Regions from separate parts of the Homo sapiens genome. Here regions 1, 2, 3, 5, 6 and 7 are each reported to be linked to region 4. Evidence: microRNA targets listed by miRTarBase, many of them from high-throughput screens and not tested one by one. Region 4 holds a microRNA gene; each other region holds the end of a gene's coding sequence. Distances are between the middles of the regions.
Evidence for each region. Region 4 holds the annotated microRNA hsa-miR-4635 (UCUUGAAGUCAGAACCCGCAA, at 2,239-2,259, shown strand). A microRNA usually pairs through its seed, bases 2 to 8, with sites in the 3' UTR of a target mRNA and lowers its output. Matches are read on the target gene's strand: a 7mer-m8 pairs with bases 2 to 8, a 7mer-A1 pairs with bases 2 to 7 and ends in A, and an 8mer does both.

Region 1: the mRNA of TMEM9B is a reported target of hsa-miR-4635. Seed matches in the 3' UTR shown: 7mer-A1 at 996-1,002.
Region 2: the mRNA of SETD9 is a reported target of hsa-miR-4635. The part of its 3' UTR that is shown has no 7-base or 8-base seed match.
Region 3: miRTarBase lists ENDOU as a target of hsa-miR-4635. Seed matches in the 3' UTR shown: 7mer-A1 at 3,045-3,051.
Region 5: the mRNA of DGKI is a reported target of hsa-miR-4635. The part of its 3' UTR that is shown has no 7-base or 8-base seed match.
Region 6: miRTarBase lists TRIM72 as a target of hsa-miR-4635. Seed matches in the 3' UTR shown: 7mer-A1 at 718-724.
Region 7: the mRNA of PFN4 is a reported target of hsa-miR-4635. The part of its 3' UTR that is shown has no 7-base or 8-base seed match.

The regions. Positions count from the first base shown.
Region 1 is chr11:8,944,918-8,948,985 of GRCh38, reverse strand. It overlaps TMEM9B (TMEM9 domain family member B), which reads left to right. Exons shown (of 5, transcript NM_020644.3): 5 at 511-1,784. The coding sequence ends at 666. Among named protein-coding and RNA genes, the nearest start is that of ASCL3, 3.9 kb to the right of the region's middle.
Region 2 is chr5:56,916,435-56,920,502 of GRCh38, forward strand. It overlaps SETD9 (SET domain containing 9), which reads left to right. Exons shown (of 6, transcript NM_153706.4): 6 at 381-914. The coding sequence ends at 468. It overlaps MIER3 (MIER family member 3), which reads right to left. Exons shown (of 13, transcript NM_001297599.2): 13 at 3,169-4,068. Among named protein-coding and RNA genes, the nearest start is that of SETD9, 8.9 kb to the left of the region's middle.
Region 3 is chr12:47,707,289-47,711,354 of GRCh38, forward strand. It overlaps ENDOU (endonuclease, poly(U) specific), which reads right to left. Exons shown (of 10, transcript NM_001172439.2): 10 at 2,446-3,631. The coding sequence ends at 3,514. The region is part of intron 1 of RPAP3-DT (RPAP3 divergent transcript); the gene reads left to right. Among named protein-coding and RNA genes, the nearest start is that of RPAP3-DT, 3.2 kb to the left of the region's middle.
Region 4 is chr5:1,061,096-1,065,162 of GRCh38, reverse strand. MIR4635 (microRNA 4635) reads left to right here and starts at 2,189; the gene lies at 2,189-2,267. It overlaps SLC12A7 (solute carrier family 12 member 7), which reads left to right. Exons shown (of 24, transcript NM_006598.3): 19 at 911-1,080; 20 at 1,188-1,319.
Region 5 is chr7:137,387,695-137,391,762 of GRCh38, reverse strand. It overlaps DGKI (diacylglycerol kinase iota), which reads left to right. Exons shown (of 33, transcript NM_001321708.2): 33 at 427-4,068. The coding sequence ends at 543. Among named protein-coding and RNA genes, the nearest start is that of PTN, 46 kb to the right of the region's middle.
Region 6 is chr16:31,224,269-31,228,331 of GRCh38, forward strand. TRIM72 (tripartite motif containing 72) reads left to right here. Exons shown (of 7, transcript NM_001008274.4): 7 at 1-4,063. The coding sequence ends at 487. Among named protein-coding and RNA genes, the nearest start is that of PYDC1, 9.2 kb to the left of the region's middle.
Region 7 is chr2:24,112,173-24,116,240 of GRCh38, reverse strand. It overlaps PFN4 (profilin family member 4), which reads left to right. Exons shown (of 5, transcript NM_199346.3): 5 at 630-1,432. The coding sequence ends at 658. It also overlaps a transcript of FAM228B not described here. Among named protein-coding and RNA genes, the nearest start is that of PFN4, 9.1 kb to the left of the region's middle.

The DNA.
Region 1 (4,068 bases), not on the chromosome of region 4:
AGAGTGATGTGGCCCCAAGCTGGCAAGAAAACAATTCTAATGGAGACAGGAAATTAAAAGACAGATCTTTCCTCTGCCACAGATTAGCTTTATAGTATCGAATAAAGCAAGGAAAGACCCTACTTTCCATATCTATAACATGGAGAGATGTTAACATGAAAATAGATTTTCTTTTCCCTATCAGTTAAGGAAGGCTTCTCTTTAACACAAATGACCACTGTCTTTTGCTTGGTCTCCACTTCTTTAAGGGAAATATCTTTGGAAATGGCAATCCATGGGAACGTTTCACAAATACTCTGTCATCGCTTATGTTTCTTGAACCACCTAGGTCTGTACTTGAGTTCATACTCTATCTGGTAGTTGAGCGCTTAGGAGTGCTTAGCTAAATAGATGCTCTGTTGTTTGAAAAGTCCACCTACCCCTATTTCTGTGGCGGGCTGGTCACTGTTGTGTGTCTATGTTTTACACTGACTGTGCCATCTCTAATGTTCTCCATTCCTGGACTTTTAGGATCACCAGCCTTTTGCAAATGCACACGATGTGCTAGCCCGCTCCCGCAGTCGAGCCAACGTGCTGAACAAGGTAGAATATGCACAGCAGCGCTGGAAGCTTCAAGTCCAAGAGCAGCGAAAGTCTGTCTTTGACCGGCATGTTGTCCTCAGCTAATTGGGAATTGAATTCAAGGTGACTAGAAAGAAACAGGCAGACAACTGGAAAGAACTGACTGGGTTTTGCTGGGTTTCATTTTAATACCTTGTTGATTTCACCAACTGTTGCTGGAAGATTCAAAACTGGAAGCAAAAACTTGCTTGATTTTTTTTTCTTGTTAACGTAATAATAGAGACATTTTTAAAAGCACACAGCTCAAAGTCAGCCAATAAGTCTTTTCCTATTTGTGACTTTTACTAATAAAAATAAATCTGCCTGTAAATTATCTTGAAGTCCTTTACCTGGAACAAGCACTCTCTTTTTCACCACATAGTTTTAACTTGACTTTCAAGATAATTTTCAGGGTTTTTGTTGTTGTTGTTTTTTGTTTGTTTGTTTTGGTGGGAGAGGGGAGGGATGCCTGGGAAGTGGTTAACAACTTTTTTCAAGTCACTTTACTAAACAAACTTTTGTAAATAGACCTTACCTTCTATTTTCGAGTTTCATTTATATTTTGCAGTGTAGCCAGCCTCATCAAAGAGCTGACTTACTCATTTGACTTTTGCACTGACTGTATTATCTGGGTATCTGCTGTGTCTGCACTTCATGGTAAACGGGATCTAAAATGCCTGGTGGCTTTTCACAAAAAGCAGATTTTCTTCATGTACTGTGATGTCTGATGCAATGCATCCTAGAACAAACTGGCCATTTGCTAGTTTACTCTAAAGACTAAACATAGTCTTGGTGTGTGTGGTCTTACTCATCTTCTAGTACCTTTAAGGACAAATCCTAAGGACTTGGACACTTGCAATAAAGAAATTTTATTTTAAACCCAAGCCTCCCTGGATTGATAATATATACACATTTGTCAGCATTTCCGGTCGTGGTGAGAGGCAGCTGTTTGAGCTCCAATGTGTGCAGCTTTGAACTAGGGCTGGGGTTGTGGGTGCCTCTTCTGAAAGGTCTAACCATTATTGGATAACTGGCTTTTTTCTTCCTATGTCCTCTTTGGAATGTAACAATAAAAATAATTTTTGAAACATCCATCAGTGTATCTATCTATGTCTCCTAGTTTTTTCCTCCTCCCTCTTTTGCTGTATAATGAGATTGAAGATATAAAGACATTTTGTACCCTGTTCTGAGACTACTGTTTTATACCAATCTAACCGTAAAATATTGGTGTAAATTATGTGTTTGCATGTATAGACAGAATATATGAATTTGGGGGTGGATCTCTGAAAAGTATACTAATATTTTGATAAATTGGGAGATTTCAAATTCCTGAAGGAGTACTTGTTCTGAGAAATTCTTGGCCCAAAAAAATCAGAATTAAATTCATAAAAGTGAGGTTTTAGGAGCCATTAATGGGATTTTGGGGTTTAGTAAAATTTTAAGCACCTACAAATATATAAATTATCAATTTTATTGTTAGTATTAAAAAATTTAATTTCAACCATGACCAAGTGGGATTTATCCCAGGTATGAAAAGCTGGTTCAACATTTGAAAATAACATTTCTAAAGAAGAAAAATTACATGAATTTTATCAATAGCAGAGAAAGCATTTGACAAAATAACCCCATTCATGATAAAAATTCTCAGGAAACTAGGAATAGAGAACTTCAACTAGATAAAGAAATGAGCTAACAAAAAAACCACAGCTAACATCATATACTTAATAATGAGAAATTAGAAGCTTTCCCATTAAGATCAGGAATAAGGCGAGGACGTCTTCTCTTACTATTCCTTTTCAACATTGCACTGGAAGTCCTAGTTGTACTGGAAGTCCTAGCCAATGCAGTGAGACAAGAAAAGGAAATAAAAGGTATAAATATTGAGAAGGAAGGAATAGAACTGTCTTTGTTTACTGATGCAATGATTGTCTATGTAGAAAACCCAGAAGAATTGACAACAACAATAATAGAACTAATAAGTGATTATAAAGGCTTGCAGGATACAAGGTTAGTATACAAAAGTCAATCAAACCAGGTGCAGTGGCATGTATCTGTAGTCCCAGCTACTCAGGAGGCTGAAGCAGGAGGATTACTTGAAGCCAGGAGTTTTGAGGCTGCAGTGAGCTATGATTGCTGCATGAATAGCTACTGCACTCCAGTCTGGGCAACACAGCAAGACCCTGTCTCTAAAAAATGTCAACCGTTTTCCTATATATCAGCCACAAACAGTGGAATTTGAAATTAAAAACAATACTATTCATAGTAGCACCCCCAAAATAAAATACTTAGGTATAAACCTAGTAAAATGTATCTAAGATCTATATGAGGACAACTGCAAAAATGATTAAATAAACCAAAGAACTAAACAAATGAAGATATATTTCATATTCATTAATAGGAAGGCTCAATATTGTTTAGATGGCGGTTCTTTCCAACTTGATCTATTGATTCAATGCAATCCCAATCAATATCCCAGAAAGTTATTTTGTGGATATTAAACTTATTCTAAAGGTTATAAAAAAGCCAAAGACAGAATAGCCAACACAATATTAAAGGAGAACAACAAAGTCAGAAAACTAACACTACCTTTGAGACTTACTATAAAACTACAGTAATCATGACAGTATGCTACTGGCAAAAAAGACAGATCAGTGGAACAGGATAGAGAACCCAGAAATAGGCCCATATAAATACAGTCAACTGATCTTTGACAAAGGAGCAAAAGCAATACAATGGAGAAAAGATAGTCTTTTCAACAAATGGTGCTGGAACAACTGGACATCCACATGCAAAGAAATCTAGTTACATACCCTGTACCCTTCACAAAAATTAATTCAAAATAGATCATAGGCCTACATGTAAAATGCAAAACTACAAAACTTTCAGAAGATAACATAGGAGAAGATCTAGATGGTGGTGATGACATAGCTGATAAAGGACTGCTATCTAAAATATACAAAAAATACTTAATAAGGGACAAAAAATTTGATTTAAAAATGGGCAAAAGTCCTGGACACCTCACCAAAGAGGAGATACAGATGGCAAATAAGCATATGAAAAGATGTTCCACATCATATGTCATCAGGGAAATGCAAACTGAAACAACAATGGGATACCAATACACACCTATTAGAATGACCAAAATCTACGACACTGATAACACCAAATGCTCTCAAGGATGTGGAGCAACAGGAACTTTCTTTTATTGCTGGTGGGAATACAAAATGGTACAGCAACCTTACAAAACTAAACATACCCTTACTATATGGTCCAGCAATTGTGCTCCATAATAATTACCCAATGAGTTGAAATCATGTCCACACAAAACCCTGCATGCAGATGTTTATAGCAGCTTTACTCATAAGTGCCAAAATTTGGAGGCAACTAAGATTTCCTTTAGTAGGTGAACGGATAAACAAATTGTGATACAACCAGACAATGGAATAATCAGCGCTAAAAAGAAATGAG
Region 2 (4,068 bases), 56 Mb from region 4:
TTTTTAAAACTCCAACTAATTTTAAGTAATGTTTTCATTTTTCAGGATATAAGATACAAATGAATGCAAGAAAAACTATAATGTCATTTTAAAATCCTTTTTGTGATACTAGTTTTGGGGGCCTAAACTTAGAAACAATGTTTTCAGAAGAAGTAGTCAGTTGTATAAACATTGATTTGTGATTTTTTAAATGATATAGATATACTCTTTAGAATACCTGCATCAGGAATAAGAACTATTTCCTCATGGAAATCAAATGCATAAACTAAAATGGAAGGAACCTGAGTAAAGTTACCTCTATAAAAGCCATCTTGGTTATATTAAAAATATGAGCTTATATTTGTTAATGCTCTACCTTTTGTATATCTTTTTGTTTTCAGCCCACTTCGATGTGTTGTTCTTGTCGCACTTAGGGACATCAATCAAGGAGAAGAGCTTTTTTCAAACTACTACACAATTGTCAGCTAACTCTGTGAATCAGAAATTATTAGGTTTTCTACTCAGCTATTAATTCTAAGTGTTTTTTGTTAATCACTTCTCTGAGTTCTACCTGTAAAACAAATATTTTGAGACTTAATTGGAATAGGAATTTCTTATGTTTTTGTTGATATTATATTTATGTTCCAATTTCATGATAAAAGCTACTTGCTTCATTACAATTTCAAATTTGTAATGCAATTCCAAGTTTAATTGGTTTTCACCTAAATACACAATAGCTTATTAAATTAAAACCTACTCTTTGAACTTATAATTTCAATTTTTCTTTTGTTTATTTTGTAAGCTCTGTGGTGGTTTATAAAATTGTAGCCAGGCATCAGCAGTTCTTGTAGTACTGCTGATGTGTACAAACTTCTGTAAAAACTTTATTTTTACAGAATTGAGTAAAAAATACCTATTGTGTTGCCATGAGTAAATTGGTGTGTCTATGTATAATGTAAAGATTGCTCTAGCTGGCTGAGGGGAAAATGTGAGGTCATTATTACTATTTTCTTTACTCTTTGAACATTTTCACACCAAAGAAAAGGTGGAAAAAAAGTGCAAGATAGTGTTGGTGGGAGGAACACTTATTCCCCGTGTCTCATGTCTTCATGTGGAGGGCTTCCACTGGTTAATGTTCCTAGCCTCTCTCTCCACCCACTGGAGGGAGATTGACTCCCTGATTATGTTTGGAGAATAACTAGGCACCCATGTCCTATATACCCTTCTAGTTCCTTCCCTGTGGACTCTGGCTGCCAGCAGAAAGAATGTGTCCTGGCAGTTCTCTGCCTTGTGCAGAGAATAGCCTGTAGCCAGCCCAGCCAGTGACAGAGTGAGTCCAGAGGTGTAATATATTGGCAGGCCAACCTGGCTGCAGCCCTGAAGCTACCTTCCCGTTTTATTAGCAATAGTTACTTTGACCTCCATCGACCTGACTCCAGCTCTCTCAGTTCCAAACTTGGATAGGAAGGAGGGTGTTCTTTACTGGATCCCTCAAAAATTCATGGAACCTATATGACCAGATTCTGATTACCTTCACTTCCTTACCACCAGCTTTACTCACCTAGTTTATTGCAATTTCAGTAGCCTCTCAATTGCCTTCCTTGTTTCCACTCCTGTCCCCCTTACAGAACATATCACCAAGTGTGATTCTTTTAAATGAAAGTCAGGTATTGACATACGTCTGCTCAAAACCCTCTCCCTATCATGGAGTAAATGCTGAAGTCCTTCACATGCATAACCTGCTCATGACCTCAAGAGCTCCTCTCCTTTCTCCCCTTGCTCACTCCATCCCAACCCACACCTGCCTCCTGGCCACTCCCCAAACCTGCCAGGCACATTCCCAACCAAGGACTTTTGCACTTAGTTCTCTCTGCCTGTAAACATCTTCCCCCAGACAGCCACATAGCTTGTTCTCTCCCTTCCTGTCACCTCAGTGAGGAGCGTTGCCTCATCACCCCACTGAAATTTACAATCCCTCACTGCTCCCAACCCTGACATATTCCTCATTCTCTTTAGCACTTACCACCAGCAAGCTCAAAAAGCGTACCATAGATGGAAATTATGGCCAAAATGACTTCTAGTAACAGATGTACTAGATTATCCTGCTTCCACAGGCTTTTCCGTCTCCTAAAGCCTGAAAATACTCTGAGCTCTCACATGGCACATTGTTGCATTCTTGCTGTATTCGGAATATGTGTGCTTGTCCCTGCTCTGAAGGCACTTCTGTGCATGTGTCCACCACAGAGCCCTATGTGCTAAGGTCCTTTCGTGTCTGACAAGGAAGGGATGTGGTTTTAGTCAAGTAACCAAAGCAGAGGAGTCAAGATTTTTGCTTTCCTTTTATCCCCTTCTTGGCCTTGTACAAACTTTGGATATTATGGGCAAGCTGATCACTGCATCTTAAAAATGGAACTACATAAAGCTCTGGTCAGAGGAAATGAAATATGGGGACAAACTTGTGAAATAATGGCAAGATAGGAGCTTTAGCTTAAAAAGATGTTTAGGAAAGATAGATATGACTACGGTCAAACTATGAATCGTATGGATAAGGAAGACTAGTTGACCATAAATGTAGTCTGTCAAATAATAATAATATTTGACCAAATTTCAGATCTGTCTGTCTTCATAAAAGACAGTTACCTAGAACAGCGTTTGAAACATAATAAATGTTTCCTGAATTAAACTAAAAGTATAATCCTTACTTTGGGACTTCTTTTTTTTTTTTTTTTTGAGATGGAGTCTCAGTCTGTTGTCCAGGCTGGAGTGCAATGGCAGGATCTCAGCTCACTGCAACCACCACCCCCAGGGTTCAAGCAATTTTCCTGCCTCAGCCTCCTGAGTAGCTGGGGTTACAGGCATGCGCCACCTCGCTCGGCTGATTTTTGTATTTTTAGTAGAGACGGGGTTTCACTATGTTGGTCAGGCTGGTCTTGAACTCCTGACCTCATGATCTGCCCGCCTCGGCCTCTCAAAGTGTTGGGATTACAGGGGGACTTTTATTATAGATGGAAATTATAGAGGATTTAAGGAAAATATTTAATCTACCAACTTCACTATCTATCATATATCTTATTTACTGCATCTAAAACCAATTTAACAGTGGTATAATATCTATCTATTTGCTGTAGCTTAAGATTCATTAAATAAAATATCTGTATTTTTGGCAAATATTCACACAAACCAAGAAAAAAAGATTCCCAGATTTTTATTTCTGGAACTGTACACCAGGTATTAAAGTACAACAAATACAAAATAATGCTCAAAAAAATCAGTGTTTATGTACAAATATTAAAATCAATGCAATAGCAACTTCCTCTTGAACATCTGATACTGAAACTTGTTCTGATTGTCACTAATTTATCTCATACTCACAGGGTACTTATTTCAAACTGGGACAATTGGAATCACTGGTCATCTAAGAGGAATATTAATATCTACCATATTTAACAATAAAACTAATAGTTTCCTCCATTTAGTGAAAAAATTAGGAACTTTTTAAAAAACATAGTAACGTCAATATTTTATAAATTATTTCAATTTCCATTTGTAGACAATGTGCTTTGAAACTCTGGGCAAACAATCTCCTTGGTGGTCAGGTTTATTTGTTAGTTTACATTCAAAGTTGAAATATTCACTAGAGACTTTGGTTAAATTAAATAGTATCACTATGCTCTATTAGATCTGATGTTCTCAAATATTTATGAGCCTCAACATTTTAAAAATTAAAAAGGAAATGATTGCACAATTCTTTGATCTAATTGTACAAATTTTAGTATTTTTTAAACAGTATTCTACATCCTTCAAGTAAATTCAGCAGCTGACCATGACAAGAGGAAAACTAAACATTTAAAAAGCTAGCATGAAAAAGATGAAGTACAACTAACAAATGTATTGCTATAATCACAGCACCAGTTACACTTCTAAATGAATCCACTGTCCTTTTCAAATTCCCTGTACATAAAAGATATATCAGCCAACACTGCAACTGCTCACCATGAATTTTTGGTTTGTTCATAAGAAAATAATGGGGCAAAGGAAAAAAAAACAAAAAGAATTTATCACAGTTTGTTATAAGAATTGTGCTTAACA
Region 3 (4,066 bases), not on the chromosome of region 4:
TTACTGGTGTTTTTAACAAAAGCAACCACATTTGTTTTATTAATTCTGACAGAGTTGATTGAGAAGAGAGATAAGGGGGCTAGCTGGCTGCTCTAGTAAAACCTCATAGACCCTTAGGTGACCCTGCTTTTCTCTCTCTTTTTCTCTCTCAAACCATACAATAATCAGAAGTAGCTTAGTGAATATAGAGTCAAAGTGAGAAAAGTTAATCAAATGGTTTTGATGGTCATCATCACCTAATTCTGAGGCTCCTGCTGTCCCACAAAACCTGTGCCTGCAATGGCAGCCTTCTCTCCTGTGAGCTCAGACCTAGGCCACCTTAAGTTCTTTCCTAGATTCCTTGCAGACCTCCCCACTTCTATTGGCAGTTATCTTTAAATGGATTTCAACAAAATGTGTAAATAATGCCTTTCTTTTAAGTCTCTTTTATTCATTTACTCCAGTCATCTCAATTGAACTTATCATTAATACCTGAAGAGTTATTTTCAAAGAGACAAACCTCTTTATGTGTTTTATGTGTTGCAGTTGTAATGGTCAGTGGAAATAAACAGGAGTGTTTATTATTGCAACAATAAAATGCTGCAATTAATGATTGTAAATGCTATTAATTTTAATATCCAAAACAATTATTGGGCTCTTTCAAATAGTTAAAGAGTCTGACAGTTAATGTAAATCTTAAGAAAGGAAGTATTAGCTAAGTAACTTTAGGAAGAAAATGAACCTTGGGACTTCCTGTTATGGAGATACTATGTTAAGTTTGGTTGCATGTGACAGAAAGCCCAAAATAAGAGTGGCTTAAACATGAAAGATTATTTTTCTTTCATGTAAAACTGAATATAAGCAATCCAGGATTAGTGTGACAGTTTCGGTGTGAGACCCAGGCTCCTTCCTGGCTGCTCTGTGATCTTCAGCATATGGCTTTCATTCATGGTTCAAGCTGGCTGCTCAAGCTCCCACGATCTTGTCTGAAATCCAGTCGGCAGAAAAGGGCAAGAGTGGGAATAACGGTACCCCCTGCCCATTAAGAATACTTCCTTTTGCATGCCATTGGTGAGGACATAGACACACGCCTACTTCTGGTTGCAAGGGAGGTCAAGAGTCTGTACTCTTGACAGTCATTTGTGTACCTAAAAACTGAGACTTCAGTGAATAAGGAAGAAGAGGAGAGCAGATACTGAGGGGTAACCAGCAGCCTCTGTCAGGGGTCTTAATAAATATTCTTTAAAAAATAATGAATGAATAAGTGAGTAGATACTACTAGAAATCCAGGCTCACTACAACATGAGGAAAAGGGTTGAATTTTGCAATCCTGATTCTGCTACTGACTAAGAATGTGGCTTAATCTGATCCTCAGTTGTCTAGGTAAAATTAAAGTGGTGAAGATAAAAATACCCACCAGAGTGAGAAAATGAATATAAAAGGACTACTTAGCACAGCTTGGGACATGGTAACAGCTTAACAAATGTTAGTTCTTACCTTTCTCTCCTGCAAAGCTAAGGCCCAGACCCTGGAATACAGTACTCTCTCCTGCATTTCTGTCTTTCTGTCTCCTACTGGACTACCTGGAAGACCTCTGAAGAGGCCTATGAAGAGCACAAGTACTGGGCACCAGTAGGTGAAGGTTAAGGCTGATAGCAGGGATAGTAAATTGCCTCTCCCAGTATAAAATTAAATCTGTATAATAAGTGAGACAATAATTACTATAAGAAAGACTAGCATGTTATTTCACATTCCTTATCTCACAACAATGGTAATATTATCCCCATTTGACTGGTGAGGAAACAATCTGAATAATTAAGAAATTTGCTCATATGGCCAGTAAGCAACAGAGCCTGGCTAGGTACCTGGGCAACATGACTTCAGAGCCTGTACCTGTTACCCCTGTGCTCTACTGACTCACTGTCTTGCCTATTGACTGTGAACATCTCTGGGAAAGGGCAGGACAAGGCCCTGTTTCATCTATCTGCAGGCTATAAACTTGCCCGAGGTATCTCTTCATACCTGACCGTTTTCTAGCATTGTGGCTTGAGTAATCTGTTTACAGATAAGAAGTCTTTTTCTGTATCTCTTTAGCATCTCCTCTTCCCCCAGTGTGGTCAACCTCTGCAACCACAGAAGCTACATCCAGAAATGTCCTTATACTCCTGTGTATTTGATAAAGGGGACTGGTTATTGGGGATGGGGACCACCAATCTCCATTTACCACCCCCCCACCGGCCGCCTCACTATCTGTATGCAATGATCCTTCCACTCTTCATATTACAGAATTCTCTTCCCCTCTTGGCTAGAGAGACTTAGTGAGTCAACAGAGACTTCACCCAGATACCACATTCTTCAAGCCATTCTGAAAAGACTCTAGAGCAAAAGTATCACTGCCAGCCCTGCTCTAGGGAAAAGGCAGGGAGACAGACATTGGAGGGAGGCCATATACAAAGAAGACACTCATTTCAAGTTTTCTTCAATGACTTTAATTGGAAACTTGAACCTTCTAAACCATAGTTCACACCCGGCTCTGTGGTACAGCATTTAGTTCTCAGTGGGGTTGGGGGACAAATGCATAATTGAGGTTAAAATAGGGAACTACAGTCTCTCTGGTCTCGTAGAGTTATTCAAATTATGGCTGCTGGATAAGGCTTAAAATAATTATGTTAATGACACCAAGCTATGGGTTCCTTCTTCTTCTGATGCTGAATCATCCTCCTATGAGGAGAACTCTTTCAAAAAAAAATTGGGGATCAAAATACAAGTCTGTGGCTGCACTAAACATCCACAAGTGGGAAACTTCTTGTTGCAGATACTGAGCTGGACACAAAAACACTCAGGCCTGGAGAAGGCCACCCCACCCCCAGCCCATTCACTGCACCAACCTATTACCCTTCTCCATTCAGCATTGGAGTTCTCCCAGACTCTGTTCTGAGAGGATCTAACTCTGGAAAAAACCAAAGGCCCTTGCTTGATTACTGTGGCCTTACTTCTTTGAGGACCCCAACACAGGGCTGAGTGGTAGTTTACAGAGCTGTGTATAATAACAGCCATTATAGTAATCTTGAATTTCTATCAGCTGTTCTTCCTAAGAACAACTGAAAACACCTTCACAGTAAAAATATCAGGGTTTGCCCTCTCACCAACCCCAAAAAGAGGAAAGTGGGCAAACCCCTTCCCTTTACATTAAAGGGAAGCATGAGGCCTGGTGAGGTCAAAGGACTTCTTCCTAGTTCCCCCACACATCAGGGCAGAGAGCTATGGAGGGTTCCTACCTTCTCTGCTTGGACTCTGTTTCTTAGTCAACATTGCCAAAATTCTAGAGGATAAAGGTTTGACTGTTTATCCACATTTTTCTAATTTGTACATTTTATCTCTTTCCCATGTGGGCACTTTGGGATTTAGGAATGCTTCTCATTGCTTTGAGATTTGGTGATCCCTTCCAGTCCTCTCCCTCTTCTCTCTAGTCCAGAGAAGATAGCACTTCAGTCTCGCAAGAGCCCTCATGCCCCTTTCTGGCTCGAAGTTCTATTAGGTGGAAGACACTATGTAGGCTGTGGCGATGTACTTCTTGCCATTCCCATAGGTGGACTTGTCCCAGGTATATGTCCGGACAGCTAAGGGATATCCTCCCAGGCTTAACTGGCACCTGTGGGGAAAGAGCCTGAAATCAGAGGAGCTCCCCACTTCACGCTGCCTCTCCCTGGGCTGGAAGGATCAAGCCCAACTGAAGCAGAAGGGCTCCATTCTGCTTAAACAGCCTTAAAGACAGAGCTGGCACTGCTTTCTTCAGCAGCTGCCTCCAGCTCCCCATGTGCAAGGAGCCATTTCAAAATCTTTGCCTTATTTCTTGTCTTCTTAAAGAATGCTGTTCCTCATCTTTCCCAGAGCAATATTCCAAAATCCCAGATTCTGGAGGTGAAATCCTTAGAAATTAAACATTTGCTTAGGGTTTCAGAAGTGGAAGAACTCAACGTGTCCGAATGTTAGAGAACTTGAAGCCCAGTGGTTCCTAATGGTACTTTCTGGAGCTCTAGGTTCCCCTAAGTAGCCTCAGGGGACAAATAAAGAGGCTGAGAGCTCT
Region 4 (4,067 bases):
TTTTCGTCCCCACTGTCCCCTTGGTGTCCCCTCTGCATCCCCTCGCCGTCCCCTCACTGTCCCCTGTGTGTCTCCTCAGTGTCCCCTTGCTGTCCCCTCACTGTCCCCCTCTGCCTCCCCTCGCTGTCCCCTCACTGTCCCGTGTCCCCTCAGTCTCCTCTGCATCCCTTTGCCATCCCCTCGCTGTCCCCTAACCGTCCCCTCACCATCTCTTCGCCGTCCCCTCACTGTCCCCTCACCATCTCCTCGCCGTCCCCTCGCGGTCCCCTCACCATCTCCTCGCCGTCCCCTCGCTGTCCCCTCGCCGTCTCCTCGCCGTCGCTTCGCCGTCCCCTCGCCGTTCCCTCACTGTCCCCTCGCCGTCTCCTCGCTGTCCCCTCACCGTCCCCTTGCTGTCCCTTCACCGTCTCCTCGCCGTCCCCTCGCTGTCCCTTCACCGTCTCCTCGCTGTCCCCTCACCGTCCCCTCACTGTCCCTTCACCGTCTCCTCGCTATCCCTTCACTGTCTCCTCGCCGTCCCCTCTGTCTCCTCGCTGTCCCCTCAACGTCCCCAGGCCTGTGCGCTGTCAGGTCCCGATGGGCCTTGAGGCCACCGACCCGAGGGTGTGTGCTCTGAGGCTGTCGAAGGCCCTGGCCCTGGGAGCGGCCATCTGAAAGTGTCCAGGCACTCCCTCCCCTTCTCCCAGAGCCCCGCAGGGGCTGGGGGATTCCCTGGACACATGACCAGCAGCTGAACTCTGCTGTGAGTCTCTGGCTGGTCCTTGGAGGAGCTGACGGAGTGAGGGTGGGGGCTTTGTGGGGACCCCCCTCGCCTCGCCGTGCCCGCCCCTGCACTGGCTGTGAGTCCCCGGGGAGGCCCCTTCCGCACCCTGGCCTCAGATGACCTGCGGACGGCCGCCTCTCTCCGCAGACACCGTCCGCGACACCACCGCCGCGCACCAGGCTCTGCTGGTGGCCAAGAACGTCGACTCGTTTCCGCAAAACCAGGAGCGCTTCGGCGGGGGCCACATCGACGTGTGGTGGATCGTGCACGACGGCGGCATGCTCATGCTGCTGCCCTTCCTGCTGCGCCAGCACAAGGTGGGGCGTGCGACGGGGACACGCCAGCCGGAGCACGGCCACCCCACGTGCTGCGGGCCGGGACGGGCTCCTCTGAGGCCCCACAGCCATGCCCTCCCTGTCTGCAGGTGTGGAGGAAGTGCCGGATGCGTATCTTCACCGTGGCCCAGGTGGACGACAACAGCATCCAGATGAAGAAGGACCTGCAGATGTTCTTGTACCACTTGCGCATCAGCGCCGAGGTGGAGGTGGTGGAGATGGTGAGTCCCGAGGGCTTGAGGGGAGGAGGCCGGGGGGAGGTGGGGAGGAGGTGGGGGGCGGCCCGGGAGGGCTGTGGGCCTCGTGAGGTGGGGGTGGAGGGGGAAGTGGAGATCGGGAGGGCTGTGGCCTCGTGAGGTGGGGGTGGAGGGGGAAGTGGAGATCGGGAGGGCTGTGGCCTCGTGAGGTGGGGGTGGAGGGGGAGATCAGGAGGTGGAGGTGGAGGTGGGGAGGAGAAGGTGGTGGCGATTGTGGCGGGGGCTGCCAGGCCTTGCGGGGTGGTCAAGGAGGCTTGGTTTTGGAATCGCCAGGACATCACAGAAAGCACAGAGCCCCGTGTGTTGCTTGTGGACACCTCGTGTAACACGGGTGTGGGTGTTGCCCTAGAGCCGGCATCAGCATCTCCGTGTCCTCCATGGTCCCGTGTCCTCCTCGGCCCGGGACCCCGTCCAGGACCTCACACCTCAGTGGTGTTGCCATGGTGGGTGCACCTCTGAGCACCTCCCGTTTTGGGTGCTCTCCCCAGATGGGCTCACCTTCCCACGGCTGGAAACCACACATCAGCAGTCGGGACCCGGGGAGAGGGGCACTGGTCAGTGAGGCCAGGCTGCAGCTGTCACGTGGGACAGACAGGCCCTCGGTCAGCTATAGGCAGGGCCTGGACAGAGACTCGTCCCGTCCTTCACGCCTGGAGAGGACGGGGTTGATGGGCGGAGGCCTGGCATTGGAGCGCTTGCCCCCGGCCCCCAAGCATGGAGCTCTGGATCCTGGGGATCTGGTGGGCCCCTTGTGCTGGATGGAACCATGCCTGCTCGCTACCAGCCCACCCGGATCCACGGCTGTGCCTTCCCCTCCGGTCCTGCTGGCGGTCCCGGGACTTTGTGGGTTCTGACCCCACTTGGATCACGCCGACAACACTGGTCTTGAAGTCAGAACCCGCAAAGTCCTGGTTTCTTCCGGCTCCCGTGACCCCAGCGCATGGTTTTGCAGGTCCTCAGGGGCCTGGACTCCTGGAGGTGGGTGCTGGGAAGACATAAAGCTGGATAGAGACTGTCACGCTGTCCCCCAGGAAGCCACCTGTGCCCCTGCAGCAGCCTGGGAGGTGCGGTCTCTCCAGCCCCGCAGCCCCCCAGTCCCCCAGTCCCTCAGTCCCCCAGCCCCCCAGCCCCCCAGCCCTGGGTATGGCAGAGGCCCCGAGCACCTGCTCCTGGTTTGTGTCGGGCTGTGAGTGAGGCCAGGCACGGCTTCGTGCCTCACCGACAACCTTCTGTGTTTCTGTGTCAGTTCCCGTGGAACTCAGTTGTCCTGTGGGGTTGTTCTTCCTCTTGCCCTGCAGGACCTTTCCTAGGCCGAGGGCTGCAGGCCTGCGTGACGCTGGATGGTTTTCTGCCCAGTTTTGTACACTGGGCTTAGTTTCCATGTGGCTGTGTCTTCGGGGACGATGGCTGGAGTTTGTCTTGTTTGGACGAGGCTTTGCGGGTTCAAGGTTGTAGGGGTTATTATTGGTGCTAATAGTCGTATGAATAACGTTATTTCCAAGTCATAAAACCGCTTAGTAAAATAGTAACAAAATGCTGCCTGGGAGAACCAGCCCTGCCAGGGGGCCAGGTGGGGCGGCCACTGGGGCCCAGAGGAAACAGGCAAAGTGAGCCCATGGCCCCAGCCGCACCCCCAGCCCCTCCGTGGTGCCAGAAGCAGCTCCCCAGCTCCTGAGCAGGGGTTGTTAGCTCTGAAGTCCGGGAACCTGGAGCTCCCAGCACCCCCCATGCTCCCAGCCATGTCTCTGGCAGGGCTGGGGCTGCCCACCCCTCCGTAGCCCTGGCCGCAGGGACAAGTGCCACCTGGCTGGAGAGGGGCGTCTGGGTCGCTGCCATTCAGTCTGGCATGCTGTTTATTTTTTTAAAAAAAGTTTTGAGACAGAGTCTCGCTCTGTCCCCAAGGCTGGAACCTCCACCTCCTGGGTTCAGGCAATTCTCCTGCCTCAGCCTCCTGAGTAGCTGGGACTACAGGTACACGTCACCATACCTGGCTAATTTTTTTTTTTTTCTTTGTATTTTTAGTAGCAATGGGGTTTCACCATGATGGCCAGGCTGGTCTCGAACTTCTGACCTCAGGTGATCCACCCGCCTCGGCCTCCCAAAGTGTTGGGATGACAGGTGTGAGCCACCGCACCTGATCTGGTGTGCTGTTTTAAATACTGGTGCTTAACAGGCACAGCTGCTCCCAACTCCCATGAGCCGGGTGCGGCGGGTGAGACACAGGGATCCCGCACGGCGGGTGCGGTGGGTGAGACGCAGGGGTCCCGCATGGCGGATGCGGCAGGTGCGGCGGGTGCGGCGGGTGAGACTCAGGGATCCCGCACGGCGGGTGCGGCGGGTGAGACTCAGGGATCCCGCACGGCGGGTGCGGTGGGTGAGACGCAGGGGTCCCGCATGGCGGATGCGGCAGGTACGGCGGGTGCGGCGGGTGAGACTCAGGGATCCCGCACGGCGGGTGCGGCGGGTGAGACTCAGGGATCCCGCACGGCGGGTGCGGCGGGTGAGACTCAGGGATCCTGCACGGCAGGTGCGGTGGGTGAGACGCAGGGGTTCCGCATGGCGGATGCGGCAGGTACGGCGGGTGCGGTGGGTGAGACGCAGGGATCCCGCACGGCGGGTGCGGTGGGTGAGACGCAGGGGTCCCGCACGGCGGGTGCGGCGGGTGAGACGCAGGGGTCCCGCACGGCGGGTGCGGTGGGTGAGACGCAGGGG
Region 5 (4,068 bases), not on the chromosome of region 4:
CCTAAACTAGAAATCTAAATGCCTGCCTCCCTATTTTTTAAATTCAGTAATTTCTACCTCCCCATCTTCCAGAAAGGCTCTGGGTTTCAAAACTCGCTTTACCCCACTGTTTCCTTCTGTATACTGTTAACCTCTGTGAACTTCTGTTTCCCTAGTATAAACCCCACCCGTCAAAAGTGATAAACTCTTTCCCTTTCATTTACCAATCGCACATGTTCAATTTAATGCTCATATAAGACAATAGATTTGAAAGTGTCTTGTAAACTCTAAAACACCAAATGTGAAAGGATCCTTACTAGCAGGTATCCTTGCGTAGTTCTGTTTCTGTGATTTTTGTTTTGTTTTGTTTTTTGTTTTTGTATTTCACGACTAGCGCTTGTGTCTATCTCTCTCTCTCTTTTTTTTTTTCTCACTATTTTCGTATAGGGTAAGACACCTCAAGAAAGAGCACAGCAGGCTGGGGACCCAGACTTGGCTGCTTACCTAGAAAGCCGTCAGAACTATAAGGTCATTGGCCATGAGGACCTGGAAACTGCTGTTTGACCCTGGTATTCGGGCAAAGAGGACATGAGCAAGCGTATCACATCTGCCCTCCCTGCAATTGGGCAGCTCCCCTGGAAGAAGCTGATGGAATTCATATATCTGTCTCTCTCCTGCAAGAATCTACCTGAGACCATGCCACTAGCTTTTAAGGGCTACCAAGATGTACAACAGAACATGATAGCCCATTGAGAAGGAGGCAGGATACCTGGAGATTTGTGGAATACAGTACGAGTTCCACAAAATTTGATCCTTATTGCTTCCAGCAAGTAGCATGAACTTCTGTGTTCACCTGTATAATTTATTTTAAAGATTCAAAGGATGTTCGTATAAATGGCACTGCTCCATCCTCCCCCTATGCATTGGTTTTTTTCCCTGTACCATACAATTCTACTGTAACTACCCATCAACTTAAAGAAAAATATTATCTCTTCTCTTTACATTCAGTCTTGGAAGACCACAAGATTGTCTGAAGGCCTTCTAAAACCTTCTGAATGTCCTGCAGAAATATAACTGTAAAACCACTTCCATTTCTAAGACTAAATATATCAAGACTATTTAGTGACTCTCTCTGCATGTCCCCCTCACCCGCCAACCCTCCGTTTCATTATATAGGAGCTGGGAAGTGCCACATGGATAATGTCAACTTGTGTGCTATATCTCTGAGGAATGGTGAGGTGGCATGGGAGATGTCTGTGCTTGGAGGTACCTCAGAGAGGTAACCCAGGGGTCAGCCCAGGCTGCTGGGCTGTAGCCAATAGCCATGCAGGACTGGTTCAGCTTGGGCTGTCTGTACAGCTCCGTACTGCCTATGTGTAGCCATCTTTGCCTTTTGCTGCAATAGAAGATGAGCAAAGGATTAAACAGAGGCCCACAGCTAGTTTGCAGAACCACTCAATTTTAAGTGCTGTTTAAATTGCAGAGCAAATAATCCTGTGTGGGAACTGTGGTTACAGGAAATGGAGCACTCTAACAATGTTTACTTCTAAACTTTGTTGAATGATAATAGAAAGCACCCTAATTGACTTGGAAAAAAAAAACAGCAAAAGCAAAAGTAGCAACATATGTCAACATATGTCACTGAAATAGGAAACAGTCATTGGAATGTTGCACAGAGGCTAATAACTATAGACTGTTGGATACAGTGGTGAGAGGAGCCCCATTTTAGGTCTTTCTTTTAGGTTTTTGGTTTTCATTACTCCAAGTAATCCTTGACCCAAGAACAAAGGCTTGTTGTATGAGTTCCACTGCCAGATTTATGGGATGCCTGGATCATTCAGAAGGATGCTTCAACTATTATTTGTCAGGTCCAAAGGTCGTACTTAATAACCCCATTTTCTATGTATGGGGTAGTCTAATATATTATTTTATCTACTTTATTTTTCCCTTTTCAGAAAGTCCTTAGTGCAAACCACCATTGGAATCTAGCCAGAAATGTCTGTCAGATAGTTAGAATTGTAACATCTAAACCTGCCACGGATCGAATGGTACTTACAGGTACCTCTCTTAGGGACTCTGTGATCCCTAAAATATCAGAAGAAAATGTCTGTCTTTCTGTCCAAATATCTACTTGACTTGGGGGTAAGTCAAAAATAAAAGTAGGTGTCCAAGGATTTTACTTTTGGCGAAATCTGACGTCTCCTGAGCTTATTTTCATTTTGTCCTTGGACATAGCATAGTGCTTCCCTAATGTTTCTACATATGACCATGAATGATAGTGTCTCTACATTTAATTTAAAAGTCTAATGGTGACATTTTGCTTATCTGAGTCACATTTCGGTAACATATCATCATTTTGAAAGTGCGGCTATGACGTGCTATATTAAACAGGAACAGCCTTTCAGTGGATGGGGATTTTATTACCACAGTCTTTCCATAGTCATTTCAAAATCAAATTGTTGGTGGGAGGATGGATTGGGTTGTGAGTAATCTACTTCCATATATCAGCCTCAGAAATGGAACTATCCTTTGGATATTACAGGAGACACTGCAGCAGATTGTTTCCAGAAGCTGGAAAAATATGCTCCAGGAGAATTTAATCACTGGGCTTTTGCTGGGGGATTTTTAGTTGGCGGGACTGTCAAGGAAATGTGATGACAGAAATATAATCCTTAACACAAACTGGAATCTGGCTTTGAATGGCATCTTCCATTCCCTGGATTGAGTCAAATGTTTGGCCAAGCAGTCAGTTATCTAGCTGTTACTGTTGGGATGAAGAACTCTGTTTTCATCAACTACCATCTCACATTTCTCTAAATACTTCCAAGTAGCCCAGAGAAAATTTAGGGTACAGGTGGCTATGGGCCAATTTCTAAATAGCTCCAATTGAAGACATAAATCTGTGTTATGAAAAATGATGAGTTGGTACTGTAAGATTCCTGATGCATTTGGAAATTTTTTCAAACCAAAAAAAAAAAAGGCATTAGAGTCCTGTGTTATTCATGGAGACCAATATTTGATATATCGCTTTGAAAAAAGCAAGTACCACTAGGACTTGGGATTTCCAAAATAAAGTGAGCAGAATAACCACATGTTTAATGGCTTCAACATTAAACCACCTCCTGTAGCATGTTTTAAAAATTGGTCCTGGGCTTTGGAAAGAGCTAAGGCCTTATGGTCTAGGAGTTTCCATCTCAGCTTAAGTATATTGTATCCCTACTATTAGGACATCAGGAAAGCAAGTGATCTAGTCCTGGTCTGAAGTGCCATGTAACTTTAACAGACATAAAAATATGTACCTATAGAAATATCATTTCTACAAAGCCTACTGAGACAGCACTGAAGAGGCAGCTAGCTTGGCTGACTCCTCTGTGTTTGTTTCTTTGTGTCATGGCACTGACTGCTTTGAGATTCCATTTTTAGATGTGGTTGATAGAGGAATGGAAAATGAAGAGTTATTAAAAGACAACATTCTGTAACCTGAAAGGTAGTCATTTTTGCAAGCTTATATTTTAATATTGTGCATTTAACAAAATAGAACACAGTTAAACTGTGCTTTATCGTATTCAAGGACTTCATAAAGAATAAGAGAGAAGATTAGTAAGCCAAGAATGGAATAAATACCATGACTAGGAATTTTGCTTTCAGAGCTTATGTTTCCTCTGTAGATGTGATAACCAAAAACCAGTGCAAGTTTTGAAACATAATTTAGCTGGCAAATGCACAGTGATGGAAATTAGTAATGACTGATGGAGAGCCGTACATACCTGTTGCTCCTTATCCTTTCAGAATGGCTGCTTTGGCAGATCTGCCTGTGCTGGGAGCTACTCAACATCACTTCATTTTCATCTGGACCTAGTGAGAGTCCCTTTGCCTAACGAATTTCTGAAATTTATTTATTTACTAGACCCCTTATAATATTCATGGCTTTAAAAAATGACACAGCATCTTTATTTTATTACATGTCAATTTTATTAATAATATTTAGGGGTTTTTTTAAATTATAAAAATGGCACATGCTTTTTATAAAATGTTTTAATACCACAGATGAGTATCACATCCACAGTCAAGGCATCCCTTTGTTCTGGT
Region 6 (4,063 bases), not on the chromosome of region 4:
GAAGGCGCCGCCGGCCGGGGAGGACCCGCGCCAGTTCGACAAGGCGGTGGCGGTGGTGGCGCACCAGCAGCTCTCCGAGGGCGAGCACTACTGGGAGGTGGATGTTGGCGACAAGCCGCGCTGGGCGCTGGGCGTGATCGCGGCCGAGGCCCCCCGCCGCGGGCGCCTGCACGCGGTGCCCTCGCAGGGCCTGTGGCTGCTGGGGCTGCGCGAGGGCAAGATCCTGGAGGCACACGTGGAGGCCAAGGAGCCGCGCGCTCTGCGCAGCCCCGAGAGGCGGCCCACGCGCATTGGCCTTTACCTGAGCTTCGGCGACGGCGTCCTCTCCTTCTACGATGCCAGCGACGCCGACGCGCTCGTGCCGCTTTTTGCCTTCCACGAGCGCCTGCCCAGGCCCGTGTACCCCTTCTTCGACGTGTGCTGGCACGACAAGGGCAAGAATGCCCAGCCGCTGCTGCTCGTGGGTCCCGAAGGCGCCGAGGCCTGAGCCGCCGGACGGGTAGTGGAGGGGCGCGGGGGCCTGGGTTGAAGCTTAGGTCTCCTTGGTCGGGTCTGACGGGAGAAGGGTGGGGAGCGGGTTGCCAGGGCCCAGGGGGCTGGGAACTGGGGGATCTCCCAGAATACTGACAAGCGTGGGGTAGGACTGGCTTGGTGGCTCATGCCTGTAATCCCAGCACTTTGGGAGACGGAGGCGGGTGGATCACCTGAGGTCAGGAGTTCAAGACCAGCCTGGCCAACATGGTGAAACTCCTCTCTACTGAAAATACAAAAATGAGCTGGGCGCGGTGGCATACGCCTGTAATCCCAGCTAGTTGGGAGGCTGAGGCAGGATAATTGCTTGAACCCAGGAGGTGGAGGTTGCAGTGAGCAGACATTGCGGCACTGCACTCTAGCCTGGGTGACAAGAGTGAGACTCTGTCTCAAAAAAAAAAAAAAGTGTGGGGGTTGGCATGGCCTGGGGACTGCTGGTGAGGGGTTGGAGTGACGCTGGGGACAAGACCCAGTGGGGTAGGGAGATCTGGAGTCAGGTCAGTGGGGAAATCAGAATTTGGGAACCAGGAGGCCTGAGAATTCCAGGAAGAAACTAAGGTTGAGCGAGGGAGGGACAGGGCCAGGTTGGGGGATTGATGGGAGGAGCTTGAGAACCTGTAGATAAGGGGCTCCTTTTGCCTCACACTCCCCTCCTCCTTAGGCCTTGGGTCCCCCGCTCCAGATTCACCTTACCCAAAAGCCTTCTCCTTAGTTCTCCACCTTAGGCATGCATTAAAATCACCTTTTTAAAGCCCTTAGCCATGACTTGTTAAAGCATAGGGTGCTAAGTTTCTGATTTAGTAGGTTGGACAGGTCAAAAATGCTCATTTCTTTTTTTTATTTCTTTTTTTTTTTTTTTTTTTTTTTTTTGAGACAGAGTCTTGCTCTGTCACTCAAGGCTAGAGTGCAGTGGTGCCATCTCGGCTCACTGCAACCTCTGCCTCCAGGGTTCAAGCAATTCTCATGCCTCAGCCTCCCAAGTAGCTGGGACTACAGACGCCCGCCACCACACCTGGCTATTTATTTTTATTTTTAGTAGGGGTTTCACTATGTTGGCCAAGCTGGTCTCGAACTCCTGACCTCAAGTGATTCACCCGCCTTGGCCTCCCATAGTGCTGGGATTACAGACATGAGCCACTGCACCTGGCTGAAAATGCTCATTTTTTTTTTTTTAATTTAGTTTTTGTAGAAATGGTGTCTCGTTACATTGCCCAGGCTGATCTTGAACTCTTGGCCTCAGGTGATCCTCCTGCCTTGGCCTTCCAAGTGCTGGGATTACAGGTGTGAGCCACCACGCCCTGCCAAAAATGTGCATTTCTAGCAGGTTCCCAGGTGACGCTGCTGGCCACAGGGGCTGACGCTGCGGGAAGCCCTGACCTAGTGCACAACCCATTGGGCTCTTCACTGTCAGTGTAGAGGCATAGGTCCAAAATATGTTTCCCCAGTCAAAAACATGTAAGGTTTGCACCAGGAGTGGAAGGAAACAAACAAACATAAACCAAAGCAAAGACACTTAAGGGCTGGGTACTCATGCCTGTAAACCCAACACTTTGGGAGTTTGAGGCAGGAGGCTCATTTGAGGCCAGGAGTTTGAGACCAGCCTGGGGAACATAGTGAGACCCTGTTGCAACAAAAACCAGAAAAACAACAAAAAGAAGACATTGGAAAATGGCTGGAGCTGATTCTAGGTGAATAAACAACCCTCGACTTAACTTGCTTTGCCTCTGGGATATGTTTATCGAGCGTCTTGAACGTTGAGGAAGCCAGCCAAGAGAAAGAGCCTGATGCCAAGGTCACACTGGTCCCTGCTGCTCATGGGGAAGAGAAGGCCCCCAACTAGATGTCCCAGAACTGGCCGCTCCCCACTTACTTGCTGGTTCACACCTTCTTTGGTTTTAGCGCACAGGGCATTTCTTGGGCTCTGGAGTAACCACTGAGGCCAGAGTGAGAGTCCCTCTTCCCTGGAGGGAGAGGCCTTTGGGGATCCAGACAGGCTTCTCTCCTGAGGGAAGACGCTGGCCTGGGGTCACTCATTTTCACGGGGAGGGTGTGCTGGCGGGATGGGTGGAAGGGCCTGGGGCCCCGGCAGCCCATTGCGGAGGTTTTCTCGGGAGATGGTGGGTATGGGACTAAGGGTGAAAGGGAAGTTGTGAGTTGGGTAAGAAAGGCCTGAGGATCTGGCAGGGGAAGGCGGCACACCTGGGTGTGTCTCCCAGAGGAAGGCCTGTGGAGCCCTGGCTTCAGGAGACAGAAGAGAGGATTAACGGTAGAAGCTCTTTCATGTTAGAAAATAAAACAATATAGCTAAGGGATTATTTGGTTGTAAAATCCAACACCATTAATAAAACTGTTATATTCTGACTCCTTCCTCATTAAATCCACATGAAAAGACATGTGACCTACTGCAAGGCCTCCTAATTGCCCTCCAGCCTTTAATCCTGACTTGGTAATGTTTCCAAAAATGCAAATGTGGTCACGGGACTCAGTTGCTCAAAACTTTCAACAACTCCCTCTTGCCTACAGGATAAAGCCCCCAGTCTTTGGCTTAGCATTTGAGCTGTTCTGCCATTTTTTTTGTTGGTTGGTTTGTTTGTTTTGTTTGAGACAGAGTCTCGCTCTGTCGCCCAGGCTGGAGTGCAGTGGTGTGATCACCGTAACCTCCGCCTCCTAGGTTCAAGGGATTCTCCTGCCTCAGCCTCCCGAGTAGCTGGGATTACAGGTGCCCGCCAGGCTGGTCTCGAACTCCTGACCTCAGGTGATCCACCCATTTTGGCCTCCCAAAGTGCTGGGATTACAGGCTGGCCTTCCAGCTTCATCTGTTTTTAGTTAAAAAACAATTTTTTTTTTTGAGACAAGGTCTTGCTCTGTCGCACAGGCTGGAGTGCAATGGTGTGATTGTGGCTCACTGCAGCCTTGACCTCCTGGGCTCACATGATCCTCCCACTCCAGCCTCCTGAGTAGATAGGATGGCAGGCACCCATCACCATGCCTGACTATTTTTTATTTTTTGTATTTTGGTAGAGATGAGGTCTCACTATGTTGCTCATGCTGGTCTCGAGCTCCTGGCCTCAAGCGATCCTCCCATCTTGGCTTCCCAAAGTGTTGGGATTACAGGTGTGAGCCACTGAGCCCAGCCCAGCTTCATCTTTTATTTTATTATTATTTTTTGAGATGGAGTCTCACCGTGTCACCCAGGTTAGAGTGCAGTGGTGTGATCTTGGCTCACTGCAACCTCTGCCTCCCAGGTTCAAGTGATCCTCCTGCCTCAGCCTCCCGAGTAGCTGGGACTATAGGCAGGTGACACTACGCCTAGCTGATTTTTGTATTTCTAGTGGGGACAGGGGCTTCACTATGTTGGCCAGCCTGGTCTCGAACTCCTGACCTCAGGGGATCCCCCAACTCGGCCTCCCAAAGTACTAGGATTACAGGCTTGAACCGCCGCGCCCAGCCCCAGCTTCATCTTAAAAAGAAAAGTTCTCTGTTTTAATATCTAACAGGGCAAATATTGAAAGATAAAACCACATAACAAAAG
Region 7 (4,068 bases), not on the chromosome of region 4:
TTCTCCTGCCTCAGCCTCCCAAGTAGCTGGGACTACAGGAGCATGCCACCATGCCTGGCTAATTTTTTGTATTTTTAGTAGAGATGAATTTTCACCATGTTAGCCAGGATGGTCTCGATCTCCTGACCTCATGATCAACCCACCTCGGCCTCCCAAAGTGCTGGGATTACAGATATGAGCCACCACACTTGGCCGTAATCAGTTTTAAGTCTAGGTCATAGAATACATATAGGAGAGGAGGGCAGCAGTTTCTTTTATTCTCCTGAGCCCTCTCTCACCCTGTTCCCTTTGCCCAGCCATATGCATTATTCATCCTTTTTTTTTTTTTTTTTTGCATGGGAACCCAATTCATACTCCAGGACAACTCAAATACCTCTACTATGGCACTTATTACCATGAAATAGAATTGATGTTTGTGTGTGCCTATATCCCCTACTAGACAGTGAACTCCATGAGGGCAGGAACTGTGTTTCAACTATCCAGTCACCCTTGTTTCTCCAGTACCTAGCACAGTGCCTAGCACATGGCAGTCACCTGGCAATGTTTGTGGAATAATAAATGGATGAATGAATCATTTGTAGTGATAATTTGCAGCTCATAAATAATAACCATGCTGTGTTTGCTTTCAGGAGACTACCTAAGAAAAAAAGGAAGTTAAGTCATCAGAGGCCCATGAAAGACAATTTTATTATTTTAGAAGAAAATTGAAGAGCCTAAAGAAAAAATATTTTATGGTTGAAAAAACACTAGACAGAAGGCACTAAAAAAGAAGAATGAATTAAGGGAGCAATTTTTATTACTTCCAGAGATCCTCTTCTTTCACTGGAATTACTTGATCAACTGTTTTTTAATAAGTGTTGGTCATCGGCATGGAATGAGAGAGCACTGATCATTTCACAGAGCATATCTATTGGGAGGCTCCTTTCTGTGAGGCTCTTGTACTCCTACACACCTTGCTAAGTATGCCAAGAATGCAAGGCTCTCACCACTCTTTATCCAAGACATTTCTCAGGGTTAGGTTGCAGCAAGCAACCTTGAAAAATGAAGGGATGTCTCCCATCAGGACAGAGAGCAAGCTTGCTTACTGTTTGCTATAAAAGCAGTGGAGTCCCTGAGCTCAGTGTTACCCCTCCTGTAATACAACTCCCTGCATGTGTGACATCTGTCTGGCTCACATCACCCCGGTGAGACTTGGGAGAAGGGATTGCAAAGGCCATTCAACAATGGACCACTAGTCAAGGTATTCAATGGACATTTCACACTCCCATTTGCAGGTATCTGGTATCATTTTGAACATTGGAAAGGCCTTCTCAAAAATCAACTCAAAAAGATTTCTGACTCTAACCCTAACTCTCACTGCACACCTTAGTAAGGCAGTATGGTCACTAAATGCACCCTTCCCCAGAAAGAGTTCATCTCCTCTTGGTCTCCTAGGTGATAATCTGGACCATAAGGGTGGAGAGCTATAGAACCTATTTTGAAAATTCAAGATTCTACACTGACTATTGCTAAACATGATGCATCTTTTTTTCCCTGACAACATCCTCAGGCCAGCCTGGTTGGTATACCCTTCAGATGTCCCTGGGGAGAGACCACCTTCGACTACTTAAAAAAAGACAGCCTAGGGAATTCAAATTTAATTCTGGTTCAGCTAGATTGGACTAACATGGTCCTATATCATGACGATAATGACTACTTAGTTAAGTACACTGTTCTCTAGATCCCTCTACAGGGTTCTACACAGGCCAAGATAGGATATAATGGTTCTCTTTAATTTTGCAAAAATGCCCCTGTCCCTCTTACATCTGACCCTTCCAGACAAGATGTCTGGAAGCAAGTAGGGCACGATTGGAGAAAAAGTATAGACATGGCTACTGGGATGGGACACACCAACTGCATGGCCACGGAGACCCTAGCACCTGGAGAGGGAACACATTCGATCTCAGGAGATTGGGAAACGGGAGCCCTTTCATGTTCTTTTTGTCCCCCAGATTCAGCATCTCCTTGTGGCAAACCCTAACTTACTAGCCTTTGTAAGTCAAGTAAAATCAAATCTTAGGTCCTTTATAGTTGTAATCAGGCAGTGAGGTACAGAATTCAAAATTCCAAAGACATGCCATCTAGGGCAGGATGTCTTTTGCTGGTATTTACAAAATTATCTCATTTTCAGCTCTGTATAATAGCCTTACACAGAACTTACTTCCAACATCATTCCTTTTCTGAGCTTGGATGGCCAAGTACCACAGATTTGTTTTTTTGTTTTTGTTTTAGTTTTTGATTGGTAGCCTTGCCACTAGTCCGTTCATCCATTATTTAGTCAGTAGTTTGATTCTTTTGGGGGTTTTGTTGTTGTTGTTTGTTTTGAGACAGAGTTTTGCTCTTGTCACCCAGGCTGGCGTGCAATGGTGCAATCTCGGCTCACTGCAACCTCCACCTCCAGGTTTCAAGTGAATCTCCTGCCTCAGCCCCCCAAGTAGCTGGGATTACAGGCACCCACTACTACACCTAGCTAATTTTTGTATTTTTAGTAGAGACGGGGTTTTGCCATGTTGGTCAGGCTGGCCTCGAACTCCTGACCTCAGGTGATCCACCCGCCTCCGCCTCCCAAAGTGGTGGGATTACAGGCCTCAGCCACTGTGCCCGGCCTGTTTTTTGTTTTTATTTTTGTTTTGAAACAGGGTCTCACTCCATAACCCAGGCTGGAGTGCAGTGGTGTGATCACAGTTAACTACAGCCTCAATCTCCTAAGCTCAAGCGATGCTTCCACTTCAGCCTCCCGAGTAGCTAGGGTTATAGGCACATGCCACGTGCAGCTAATTTTTAAATTTTTTGTAAAGATGGGGTCTCACCATGTTGCACAGGCTGGTCTAGAACTCCTGGGCTCAAGCAATCGTTCTGCCTCGGCCTCCCAAAGTGCTGAGATTACAAGAGCGAGACACTGCATCTGGCCTTTGATTCTTTTTGAAAAGAGATAACAGTAAATTTTAAATTAACTTATTTAGCATTCTTTGTAATAAGAACGTTAAATAAGTGTATTTAGATGTATTGTTTACTGTTGTATCACCACTACCTAGCACATAGTCGGCTTTGTGCTAGGTAGTAATGATACAACAGTAAATAATACATCTACCCCAAGACAGGCTCACAATTTAGTGGGGAAGGCAAGTTGTAAATGAGTCACATGACCACATGATAAATGCTGGAGCAGGTGTAAAACAACTACAGAGCACAGTCCTGAAGACTAACTGTGTCTTCAGGAACCTGAAACTAGCATTTGAAGTGCATTTGGAAGAAGAGTGAGTATGGAAGAGAGTAAAGAGTATTCCAGGCTGAAGGAGCACCAAATGCCAAGGCACAGAGTGATGAAAAGGCCTGTTGTGTGGAAAGAATGGTGAGAGGTTCCATGTGGCTGGAAAGCAGTACGTGGGAGACAGTGATCAATGAAAATGGGAAGATGGATAGAGCCAAAATAGAAAAGGCTACTCTCCTTGGAGTCACTCAGAAGACATCAAGCAGTGCTGTGGGGTAGACAGTACTTTTAGAAAACTATTAAATTAGGATTACAAAAGTAATATACACTCACTTTTATAACTTGGGAAAATAAGTTAGTCATAATTTCACATTAAGTGAAAATTTCTGGGCCCGGCATGGTGGCTCATGCCCATAATCCCAGCACTTTGGGAGACTGAGGCTGGCGGATCAGCTGAGGTCAGGAGTTTGAGACCAGACTGGCCAACATGGCAAAACCCCATCTCTACTAAAAAATACAAAAATGAGCTGGGCGTCATAGCAGGTGCCTGTAATCCTAGCTACTCAGGAGGCTGAGGCACAAGAATCGCTTGAACCCAGGAGGCGGAGGTTGCAGTGAGCCAAGATCGCGCCACGGCACTCTACCCTGGGCGACAAGAGCGAAACTCCACCTCAAAAAAAAAAAAAAAAAAAAAGATGAAAGCTTCTGGTGATGGTTTTGAGATTTTCTTCAGGTCTCTTTTGATGCACATAATATATACATTTTAACCTTACCTAGCCTTAATGCATAGAGTTGACATTCCACTATGTTCATTTAGC